Regions from separate parts of the Homo sapiens genome. Here region 1 is linked to region 2. Evidence: fine-mapped expression QTL. A gene starts in region 2. The other region holds a variant in brackets. All regions are shown on one strand. Distances are between the middles of the regions.

Region 1 (5,386 bases), 140 kb after region 2:
CTGTGATGTCTCCTTGTAGATAATCTGGACCTTGCTTAGTCCTTTAGTTGGGAAACAGAATCAGGGCATAGAGCAGAAGAGAGCTTGACACTCCATATGGTCCTGGTTCTGCTACCCATTAGCGATTAGTGAGGAGACCTTTAGGGAGTCCACTGTGCCCTGTGTGTCACCACATTTTCTTCTGTGAAATCAAGATTAAAGAACAGATGACTTTCAAGGTCTTTTTCAGTTTTATAACTGTGAGTCTATGTATTAGGTATTTATTTTCAACAAATGACTTTAAAATGTCGAATGCAAACCATTCCCACTTGGAGTGTTTTATTTTTCAATCATCATCATTGCCCCCAACTCCCCACATGTATGTGTTGTGGCATCCAGAGTGAGAAAAGACAATTTATGAGTTGATGAATCTGGGCCTTATTTCTATTTCCATTTTGAAGAATAACTTGTCATAGAAGCCTCTGCAGTTTAACAGAAGGAGCCACATATTGGGAGTCACGAGTTCATCTCTGTGGGTTAATAGTTCCATGACACGGAGTACGTAGCTCAGCTTTTCAGGGGTTCAGTTGCCCCACTATGGATAGCGGTGTGGTATTTGGTACTTGTGAGGGCTCAATTAGATAAAACATATGATAGCTTTTTGTAAACTGTAAAAGGCTATACAAAAGTATGAATTATTATAATAATTATGGTTTTTTATGTCTGGATTACAGTATCAACACAAAAGTATTGGCTGATACTGTGGTTTGTGTTGTAAAATGAAAGAAGTGTAGAAATTCAAATACCTTACTGTGTATTCATGTGTTTGATGTTGACAGTAGGCTACCCAGGTTATATGAACCTGCTCCTGCCGTTCCCTGCCACATGGACCTGTATCAAGCAGTGTGTGGCTTGTTTTCTTCAAGGTACTGATTCTTGACCAACACTGAGGATGTATATCCAATGAAAGATAGATATCAATGGCGGTAGATATCAATGTGTTATTAGTAATACAACTTTAGGTACAGACAAAATAGAAAATAAAATTAACTGTCATTATAATTAGTAGTGGAAAATACATTAAAAATTATTTGTGTATAGCTTTGGAAAAAAGTTTTCCAAAAAAAGCTTTTTGGAAAAAAGCTCTTAGAAGAGCTTTGGTAACATTATTTTTGAAAGCGCACACTCACATTGTGACTGTGGGTATACTGAGCATATATTCTTACATTGTTACTGTGAGAAGCTGCAAGTCAGTGCTGCAAGTCAGTAACAAATTCTCTTTTGGGGATAAAATGAAACAGTTTTAAGCTTAGAGTGGCCATTTTTATTTTAACTCTGCATTACTAAACAAATATAAAAGAAATTCATCTCCATTTAAAAATCTTTTTTGTTATTTATATTTTGTTTTATTTTTGTTTCCTATTCTTTATGCAGTTACCTGATACTATGGACAGTATATCCAGTGGATCTTTTAGTACTGTAATATCAAAATGCTACAAATATTTATGTTTCCTGCTATGTTCAAGATATTGTAGTGGCACCAACTTCTTGGGCATCAGCTAATATTGCATTTTGGAGTCATTAGGGTGTTCTGTGAAGAATGAATACTGAAGTGACAGTTTTATCTAGTTTTTTGAGGGGCATTTATGATGGGGTTGGGTTGCCATTGTGTCTGACAGTGCAATTCATGTAGTTCCTGGCATAATTGCCTTTTTTTTTTCCTTAATGGAGAGGCAGGGTTCTGATTGGTGCTGTATAAATTTAAGTAACTTTGTGCTTTGTAGGAATGGTGACAAGGAAGGCATGATTTCCCCCTGACAAGGAATGAAAGGTGAACTGTATCAGCTCTTATCTGGACATATATGTTAATGTTTTCTATGCTCCCTGATACAAGAAGTTTCCAAGTTATATAGGAAAATTAAGTCCATTGATCCTGTCTTTATCCTCAGAGGGCAGAAATGAGACAAGTGGATAAAGGCTGTAGGAAGCTGAATTCCAGATTAATCAGTGCCGAGGAAGATTTTTCATTATCGGAAAACCCAACAGTCTAAAATCAATAACCAGTTCTTCTGCAAAGGGGTGAGTTTAAGCAGGGCTAATGTGACTGTCATTTCTGCCTGTCCTGCAAGCTTAGACTAGTTGAACTTTGAGGTCACTCTATGATTCTTTTATTAGGGCTTCAAATCAGCAGGGAGTGTGTAAAGAAAAAATGCTCCCCCCCTACCATTTCAAATAAAAGTGAATGTTTTCTCTTTCAAAGCTACTATTAGAGGTAGTTGTGATAGACACTAACAATCCCCGGTGTTAATACTTTCCACTCCTTTTATTTTATTTTAATTTAATATTATTTTATTGAGACAGAGTCTCGCTCTGTCACCCAGGCTGGAGTGCAGTGGCGTAATCTCTGCTCACTGCAAGCTCCTCCTCCCAGGTTCACGCCATTCTCCTGCCTCAGCCTCCCGAGTAGCTGGGACTACAGGCGCCCGCCACCACGCCTGGCTAATTTTTTGTATTTTGAGTAGAGACGGGGTTTCACCGTGTTAGCCAGGATGGTCTCGATCTCCTGAACTCGTGATCCACTCCTTTTTAAAGTGAGTCTAGTCTGTTGATCTTCATAAATAGGAGGGTTTTCCTCCAGCTTGGACATTAAAAATAATTTTTAAAAAGATCTTTGTGGCTAACTGGAAAATCTTCTGGAATTATCTAATGCTTCATTCATTTCCCTCCATTTCTGTTTTTTTTTTTT[G/TTTTG]TATTTATACTCTGCATATTTAGAAATCTTAAATTCAAATACATTTAGTTAAAATGAGTTGACGAAGACTCCAGTGATGTTTTAATACCCTAAGATTTTGTGATTCCTTGGGCCTGGAATGGATCTTAGAAAATTACCTTGCCCTCATGAGCCTGTAAACCGTGTTGTTTCCCCTCAGTCTTGCTCTGTCCAGTACAGTAGCCCCTCGCCACACATGGCTGCGGAGCACCCGGAATGGCTTACAGCACATGTGGGAATGGTGCTGAATGCTGAGGAAGCATTCACTCATACGTGCTGCACTTCTTAAAGGCCTCCCAATAGCCTGCTTTGCGGAGTTCTGGCTTTTACTTGCTGTCTACTATGATCACCTGATTTGTGCTTCACATACATATCTGTGAAGTTTGCTTTTTCTATTTAAAGTGCCCTTAAACTTTCATTTGATCGTGTTTATCTGCAGATGGTCAGTGTCATTGGCATATTTGAACATTATTCTGCCCTCCCTCCGCCAAACTCCTTATGTACTAGATTAAGAAATTTTATTTTTGAGATGATGATTTTAATTTGATTTTACAGACATTCTTTTTTACAAAGTACAGTTGTTAGAGTTATAGAAGAGTGATTCACATCTTTGAGAAGATAGATTTCATGATTAATATATATATTTTTTGAGACAGAGTTTCGCTCTTGTTGCCCAGGCTGGAGTGCAATTGCACGATCTAGGCTCACTGCAACCTCTGCCTCCCAGGTTCAAGCAATTCTCCTGCCTCAGCCTCCCAAGTAGCTGGGATTACAGGCATGTGCCACCATGCCCAGCTAATTTTGTATTTTTAGTAGAGATGGGGTTTCTCCATGTTGGTCAGTCTGGTCTCGAACTCCCAACTTCAGGTGATCTGGCCGCCTTGGCCTCCCAAAGTGCTGGGATTACAGGCGTGAGCCACCATGCCTGGCCCAATATTTTCTAAGATAAAATTATTCTGAGAAATCTAGTGGAATCTTTTCCATTGCTTTGTTATTAATGTTTCAACACTGACTTTCTCAACTAGGCCAGTATTACTATTTAAAGGTTTTTAGAGGCTGGCAATGGTGGCTCACGCCTGTAATCCTAAAACTTTGGGAAGCCAAAGTTGGGGGGCGTCACTTGGGACCAGGGGTTTGAGGCCAGCCTGGGCAATACAGTGAGAACCTGTCTTTACAAAAAAAAAAAAAAAAAAAAAAATGAGCCGTGCATGGTGGAGTGCACTTGTAGTCCTAGCTACTAGGGAGACTTAGGTGGGATAATTGCTTGATCCCAGGAGTTTGAGGCTACAGTGAGCTAAGATCATGCCACTGCACTCCACCCCAGGTGACAGAGTGAGACCCTGTCTCAAAAAAAAAAAAAAAAAAAAAAAAAATATATATATATATATATATATATATATATATATATATATATATATAAAATAAAGGTTTGTGGACACATGTTACCCATTTAGAGAATAATTTATTTTTGAATGTGTATGATACCTAAGTGATATGCATATATATAATTAAGACATTTTAAATCTCTTCAGATATTTCTTCATAAGATACATGTATCTATAGATAGCTATATACAAAACTACTTACAAATAATAAATAGACATTGTTTTATACAGTTCTTTCCAAAGAAATGCAGGATTTCTTATCCTAGTCCTTCCTCCCCGAGTCCAGTTATTTACATATTTTTGTCTTTAAGTGTTAGATTGCTTGTTTCTGCTGCCTATTGTTGGTAGTTTTGTCTTTTACACATTTGCTGTTAGATTTAGTTATTTTGAAATGTTGAACTTGAAATGTAATGAAAAGGACACATCAGAATTTATCATCAGGGAAGATATCTTTTATGTTGAGCAGCTGCTATCTGATCTTGACAGACTGTCCTCTTAGAGGACTGTTGAAGTCCATTCTAGTCATTTTGTAACTTCATAACTGCAGAAAGAAATGATGCAAGGACTGTTTAGTGGACTGAGATGGCTGAGCAGGTTCTTGGCCTGAATTATCCAGAGGAGATAGGTGGATCTAGCTTCAGAGGAAGTCTACACCCCATTCCCTTCTGCTTACAATGTACCCATGATATGTGTTTAGCACAGTAATACTGTAACAGGACATCACATGGAAAAATCAAAGCAGCTGGCTCACTGTATTTAACTGAAAAGAATGCCTACAGATTGGATATTTAATAGGGAAAATTAAGGCACTTTAATAACAAACTTCATTATGTGAAACTTGTTGAATATTAACATACAATATACCTTGTATATTAATGCCATAGTTTTTAGAAACACTAATTTAAACAACAAATTTAAGGGGTGCTGGCATATCCCAGTGACACCTTCAGTTTTATTGCTGCTTAGTATTTTCTAGTAAATTAGTTTTAATTATTGGTAGTCTGTTGGGCACCATTTGGGAAAGAAATAAATTGGTCTCAGTGTAGCAGACTTGTAGCCAAAAACTTTGAATAAAAAATAAGTATAATAAAGAATATTATTTCATTTTTAAAGGAATTGTATTATTTTGAAGTGCTGTGTGGTTGATATGGTTTGGTTGTGTCTCTACCCAAATCTCTTATTGAATTGTAGTTCCCATAATCCCCACATGGGAGGGACCCAGTGGGAGGTGACTGAATCATGGGGGCAGTTTTCCCCA
Region 2 (5,386 bases):
TCAGTCTCCTCAGTAGCTGGGATTACAGGCGCATACCACCATGCCCAGCTGCTTTTTGTATTTTTAGTAGAGACTGGGTTTCACCATGTTGGTAAGGCTGGTCTCGAACTTCTGACCTCGTGATCCGCTCGCCTCGGTCTCCCAAAGTGTTGGGATTACAGGCATGAGCCACTGCACCTGGAGCTTTTTTATTGAGTACCTGCACTGATGAATAAGATAGTGCCTCCTTCTAAGCAATTTACAGATTAGTGGGAACCCAGGAGGCGGAGGTTGCAGTGAGCCAAGATCGAGCCATTGCACTCCAGCCTGGGAGATGAGAGTGAAACTGTCTCTCAAAAAAAAAAAGTATTATTATTTAGAAATTGGGTCTTGCTATGTTGCTCAGGCTAGTCTCGAACTCCTAAACTCAAGTTAGCCTCCTTCCTCAGTCTCCCAGTGCTGTAATCCCATACAGGCGTGAGCCACCACACCTAGCCTGTGTCAGCTAGTTTTTTTAAAACAGCTTTACTAAGATATAATTTACATAATCATAAGTTCCACCTATTGTAAGTACACAATTCAAGGATTTTTAGACAATTCAGAGAGTTGAGCAACCATCACACGATCTAACCCATTTTTTCAATGTTTCTGCTGTAGAAACCATTTTATTATTCTAGTACAAAAGTACATGCCAAGCCATTAAAATTGTACAGCAAGTATTAAGGATGCAAAGTGACTCACTGAAAATGTATGTAATGGACTTGCACAGACAACTGCTCTACTGACACAGAAAGAAAGAGAGGGAGGGTGGCTAGAGCCAGTACAGTACAAAGCAATGGTTATCAGCTAGGCCCTAGAGTTAGACTGCTGGGGTTCAGATGCTGGCATCCCTACTTACTTAACTGCTGTCTGGCCTCAGGCATATTACTTGAACTCTCTGAGCCTCAGTTTACTCATCTGAAAGAGAACAGCACCCTACTTTATGGGGTTATGAAGAATAAATGAAATACTATATGCAAGAGGTTCAGTAGAGTCCTGGCACATAGTAAGGACTCAAGAACTATTAGCTGTTTTTACAGTTATCACTGGATGACTATTAAATAGCCTTTCATGAGCCAGACATGGAAGACCACATGCTCTAATTAAATTTATATGAAATTCTAGAGAAGGCAAATCGATGTTGATAGCAGATCAGTGATTGACAGAGGCTAGGGAGCGGAGGTAGGAAATTGACAGCAAAGGGTCACAGAAAACTTTTCAGGATGTTCTATATTATGACTGGGATGCTTTGTAAACACTTGTCACTGAATCACACATTTAACTTGGTGCATTTTTCTGTATGTAAAGTAAATCTGACCTCTCTCCCCCAAACTCTTAAAGATCTAGCTTTTAATTTTCCAGTTATTTTACATGTCAGAAGCAAGGTTCAGTTTCTAAACTCAGCCAACAAATATCTGTTGAGCACCTACGATGTGCAAGACACTGTTCTGGGTGTTGGGGATACAGTCTTGAAGAGGACAGATAGCATCCTACCCCCATGGAGTTTATAGTTCAAGCACGAATTATACACCTATGTTTGGAGTTACAAAATACAGGATGCTATGGGGAGAATACACTGTCCGGGTAGGGGGAAGTAGAGGAGTTCCAATATGTATAAATCTCTGTCCCGCGTTTTTTTCTATTTTTTGAACACAGAAGCAAGCAGAGTCCTTCCACCTACAGTCCAGGTGGGTGGTGTGTCAGAGGCCTCTCGGGGACCAGTGACCGTGACCCAAGGCTGCCCTCAGGCCACACCATCTGCGAGATGCGGTGGCCACCTGGCGAGGGAAAAGGACTGGCACCGGACCAAAGACCAGGTGGATGCTTCCACGGACCCCAGGTGGGGCGCTGCTTTGACCTTGGCTTCGTCATGCCCGCGCTCTCTAGCTTCTTTCCAGGTGTGCCCAGCCACCGCAGAGAACAGGCGGCAGGAAAGCTTAGGAAACCCTCCCAGAGGGCGTGCCAGACCGGGAAACTTTATCTGGGAGGTGACTCCACCCACTTGGGCGGGGCTGCCGCCCGCTGGGGGCCGGGCAAGTGGCCCGGCCAGCGGCGCGGCGTCCGGGGAGGAAATGGATGCTGTGCTGGCCTGCCGGCTCCGGGGGCGGGGAAATCGAGTAGCTGCACTCAGGCCCCGCCCGAGACCCGGAGGGAGCGCCGGGCCGTCCCCTTTTGCCCTCCTTTGCGCTGGGCTGAGCCCAGAGCCGAGAGCAGGAGTCGGCTCTGAGTTCCCTGCTTGGTTTTTGGGTGGCAGCAGCCAGAGGAGGAATATGGCGCTCTTAGGCAGCCGAGCGGAGCTGGAAGCGGACGAGGTACGATCCGATGGGGATTGCGGGCCCGGCCCCTGAAGCCCTGGACAGGAGTCCGGGAGAGAAGAGTGAGCCCGGCTAGGACGGCCGAGGCCCCGCCCCCTTGGTCCCCTCTCTGGGGTGGGCTGGCGGGCGCCGGGTGGGGGCGCCCGGCCTTGGTAGGTCTGTCCCCGCTGGAGCTAGGAGGGTCCCTGCGGCGCGCGGAGCGGACGCAGTGCCGAGGTTCGGAGCGCCGGCCCCGCGAGTCGTGGGGATGGAGGACCCACGTCCTGCCAGCACTTGGATGGGCGTGAGGGCGCGGGACCATAGGACCCGCAGCTCTGAGCTGTTCCGGGCCGGCCCAGCGACGCCTGGGCTTTACGAAGTCTGACCCTGAAGTCCTGGCACTGGCTCTCTGGGTGTTCGTGGAATCATCCCTCGACCTGGGAATCTCACCTTCTATGGAAGTTTCCTGGTGGCAGAACCGAAAGGCTTACGATTGATGAAAAGAGGGGGCAGCCTGAGGAACAATGAGTAGAGGGGTACCTGCCGCGACAGCAGGGCAGGGCTGCCAGGGGCTGGGGCTGGAGGGCTAGAGCCGCAGCCCAGGCTGTGGTGCTTCCCTCTCCCTCCACGGGGCCGGGACACTTCCCCTAGCAGGTCCTCAGAGTCGGTGGTGGCCGGAGGGAAACCACTTTGAGAACCGACTCCGGCCTCCTTTGGTTTCAACTGTGTTTGAGTAATTAGCCACTCCTTCAGTCGTGGCGCGCCCGGGCCTGAGCACCCAGGGGCTAGCGCGCCGGACCTGTTGATTTATTGACTATTCATTTCAGCACCTGGCAACTCCAGAGACAGCGCTCTCCCTGCTCTTGAAGTTGAGACCGAGGCTCCAGCAGCAGCCAGCACCCACAGCTGCTGTTCCTGCCATCTTACCTGACTTGAATTGTGCGAGTCGCTGCCTTTAGAAGGCTTTGGTTTCAAATGATGCAATAGTGGACGATCTGGAGGAGGCGGTTAAGTTTCCCGTCCATCTCTTTAGTGCCAGGAATCTCCTGACAAGGAAGACTATACTTTAAATGTGCTCCGTAAAATAAACAAAAAACAAAAACTGAACTACAGCTCCTCTGCATGACAGAGAGACAAGAGGGCAAGCCGGGCTGTCCAGACCCTTGCTTACAGCCTGTCCCTTGCATTGAGGATCCCAAGACTGTAGAATGAAATATTTGAATCCCGATCTGTTTGTAGGAGATTTGCTGTGCTTAGAACTATGTAATTCTCTAGATTAGGGCATTGTTGAGGCGGTGCTATTATTAATTAACACTGGGATAATAGGTGTAAACTGGGACTGTTTCGGAGATACTTTGACAAATGGTCACCCCAGCTATGCTCACTGCCTACTAGATGAACGGTTGAGATGCATTAGCCGATGAGGAGGGAAGTTAGGTTTCTGTGGGTGAAACTCTGGGTGGAAGTTAGGTTTCAGAGTAGCAGAGAGCCTGGCACACAGATACTTGGTAAATAAATATTTGTTGAATGAATGAAAGACTGCAGAAAAGATGTTGCTTAATAACAACTCAGTTTTTGCCATATCATTCATTTATTTTTCTTCATTCATTAACTATTAGGCTTCTGTTACATGCTAGGTACTGTACTAGTCCTAGTTGATGAGCAAAATACAAATTGAATTCTTTGTTCATGCCAAATTTACTTTTGTCCCTCACAGTTTACCACTTCCATTGCTATAAACTGAGCAAGCGTTTATTGAGCATTTACTTTGGGCTCAAACTTGGTAGGTGCCTTAGAGAAGGCATAGTTTTGCCTCTTTATGGTTCTCAGTCTGATTAGGGAGATATGACCTGGGTACAAGAACTCTAAAAAGGAGCTCAAGTAAATGTAAGCAAGTAAGAAGTAGTGTGTTGTAGACTGGATACCCTTGATTTATTTGTAGAAAGTCCCTTACCGTAAATGGGCTTGAAGAACTCTAACCTCGAGTTCATAAGACCCTGCTCTTCAATTTTACTGGGTGCGCAAATAGCTTATTTCAGCTAGGAAGCTTTTCACGTATTTAAGAAGAGTCTGATAGTCTTTATTTGATATTGATAGTTTTTAATGGCCATTATTTGATATTCTGGGGGAGTTAAAAGGGACAAAGTGATATAGTTGGAAAAGTACCAGGTTAGGTTTTTAGGTAACCTGGTTCTTCTCTTTGTTCATCACTTATGTGTGTAAACAGCTGACTAGGTGCCAAGCCCTGTACTAGCCTGGAGGTACAACAGTGAACAAGACAGACAAGGTCCTTCCCATGACTGTTGACCTTGATTGAGCAAGTCTGTCAACCTCAGAGGGCTCTTTCAGTTCCCTTATCTGAAGAAGGAGGGGCTGGATTAGCCCTAAGTGTTCTTCCAGCTCTAAAGATCTGGGTTTTTATTGAGATGGGGGAGAGGGGTCGGGGGGGAGGTTGGGGAAGAGGGAGTTTCTTTTGGGAGAAGGGCTAATAATATGGAAATCTTTTTCTTTAAAAGTACCCAAGGAATGAATGATAATGGTAGAGAAGCTCCCATGGTAGCTGTGGGATGGAGGTTTTCTTGGCTAAATTGATTTTTTAATTTGTGTTTTTTAGGTGCTAGTATGATAAATTCGGGAGCATAGAAGTTAGGACTTGCATCCTCATTGGAGGCAAAAATTGGTTATTGGGGAGCACAAGCATCTTAGATATTATAATGGTGTGTGGCCATTTAAAGCTCAATCAACAAAAGCTTGTTTCTTAATATTTGAATTTCTCTCATTGGGTTTTCTTGTGTATTACACTAGCAACATTGATAATGGATTCATGGAAGATGTACAGAATATATTCAAGGTCAATCCAACAAATTTATAACGTAGAGATGGCTGTGGTTGGAAGACTTTCTCTCTAGTTGCCTGATCTTGAAGTCATTTTAGTTGGTTACCTTCACATACTTATGGGCTACCATTGGGTGCCTTGTGGCTTGCTTATATTTGGCCCTCAAATATAAGGATTTGAGAATTGAATGAAAATCATTTATATTTTATTATTTAATTCAATTAAGATTATTCAGCTC

What was found. PIP is the estimated chance that this variant, and not a neighbour inherited with it, causes the effect. A credible set is the group of variants that fine-mapping cannot tell apart.
Region 1: its variant is the best candidate, but not a certain one, in a credible set for the expression of TTC39B in whole blood (INTERVAL, PIP 0.59).

What each region holds. Positions count from the first base shown.
Region 1 is chr9:15,165,759-15,171,144 of GRCh38, reverse strand. TTC39B (tetratricopeptide repeat domain 39B) reads left to right here. Exons shown (of 20, transcript NM_152574.3): 20 at 1-5,386. Among named protein-coding and RNA genes, the nearest start is that of TTC39B, 140 kb to the left of the region's middle. The variant G/TTTTG (reference allele first, on the strand shown) is at 2,726.
Region 2 is chr9:15,304,028-15,309,413 of GRCh38, reverse strand. It overlaps TTC39B (tetratricopeptide repeat domain 39B), which reads left to right and starts at 2,198. Exons shown (of 20, transcript NM_152574.3): 1 at 2,198-2,330. The coding sequence starts at 2,289. RefSeq lists silencers at 1,944-2,283, 2,314-2,633, 4,515-4,584 and enhancers at 1,871-2,433, 2,997-3,560.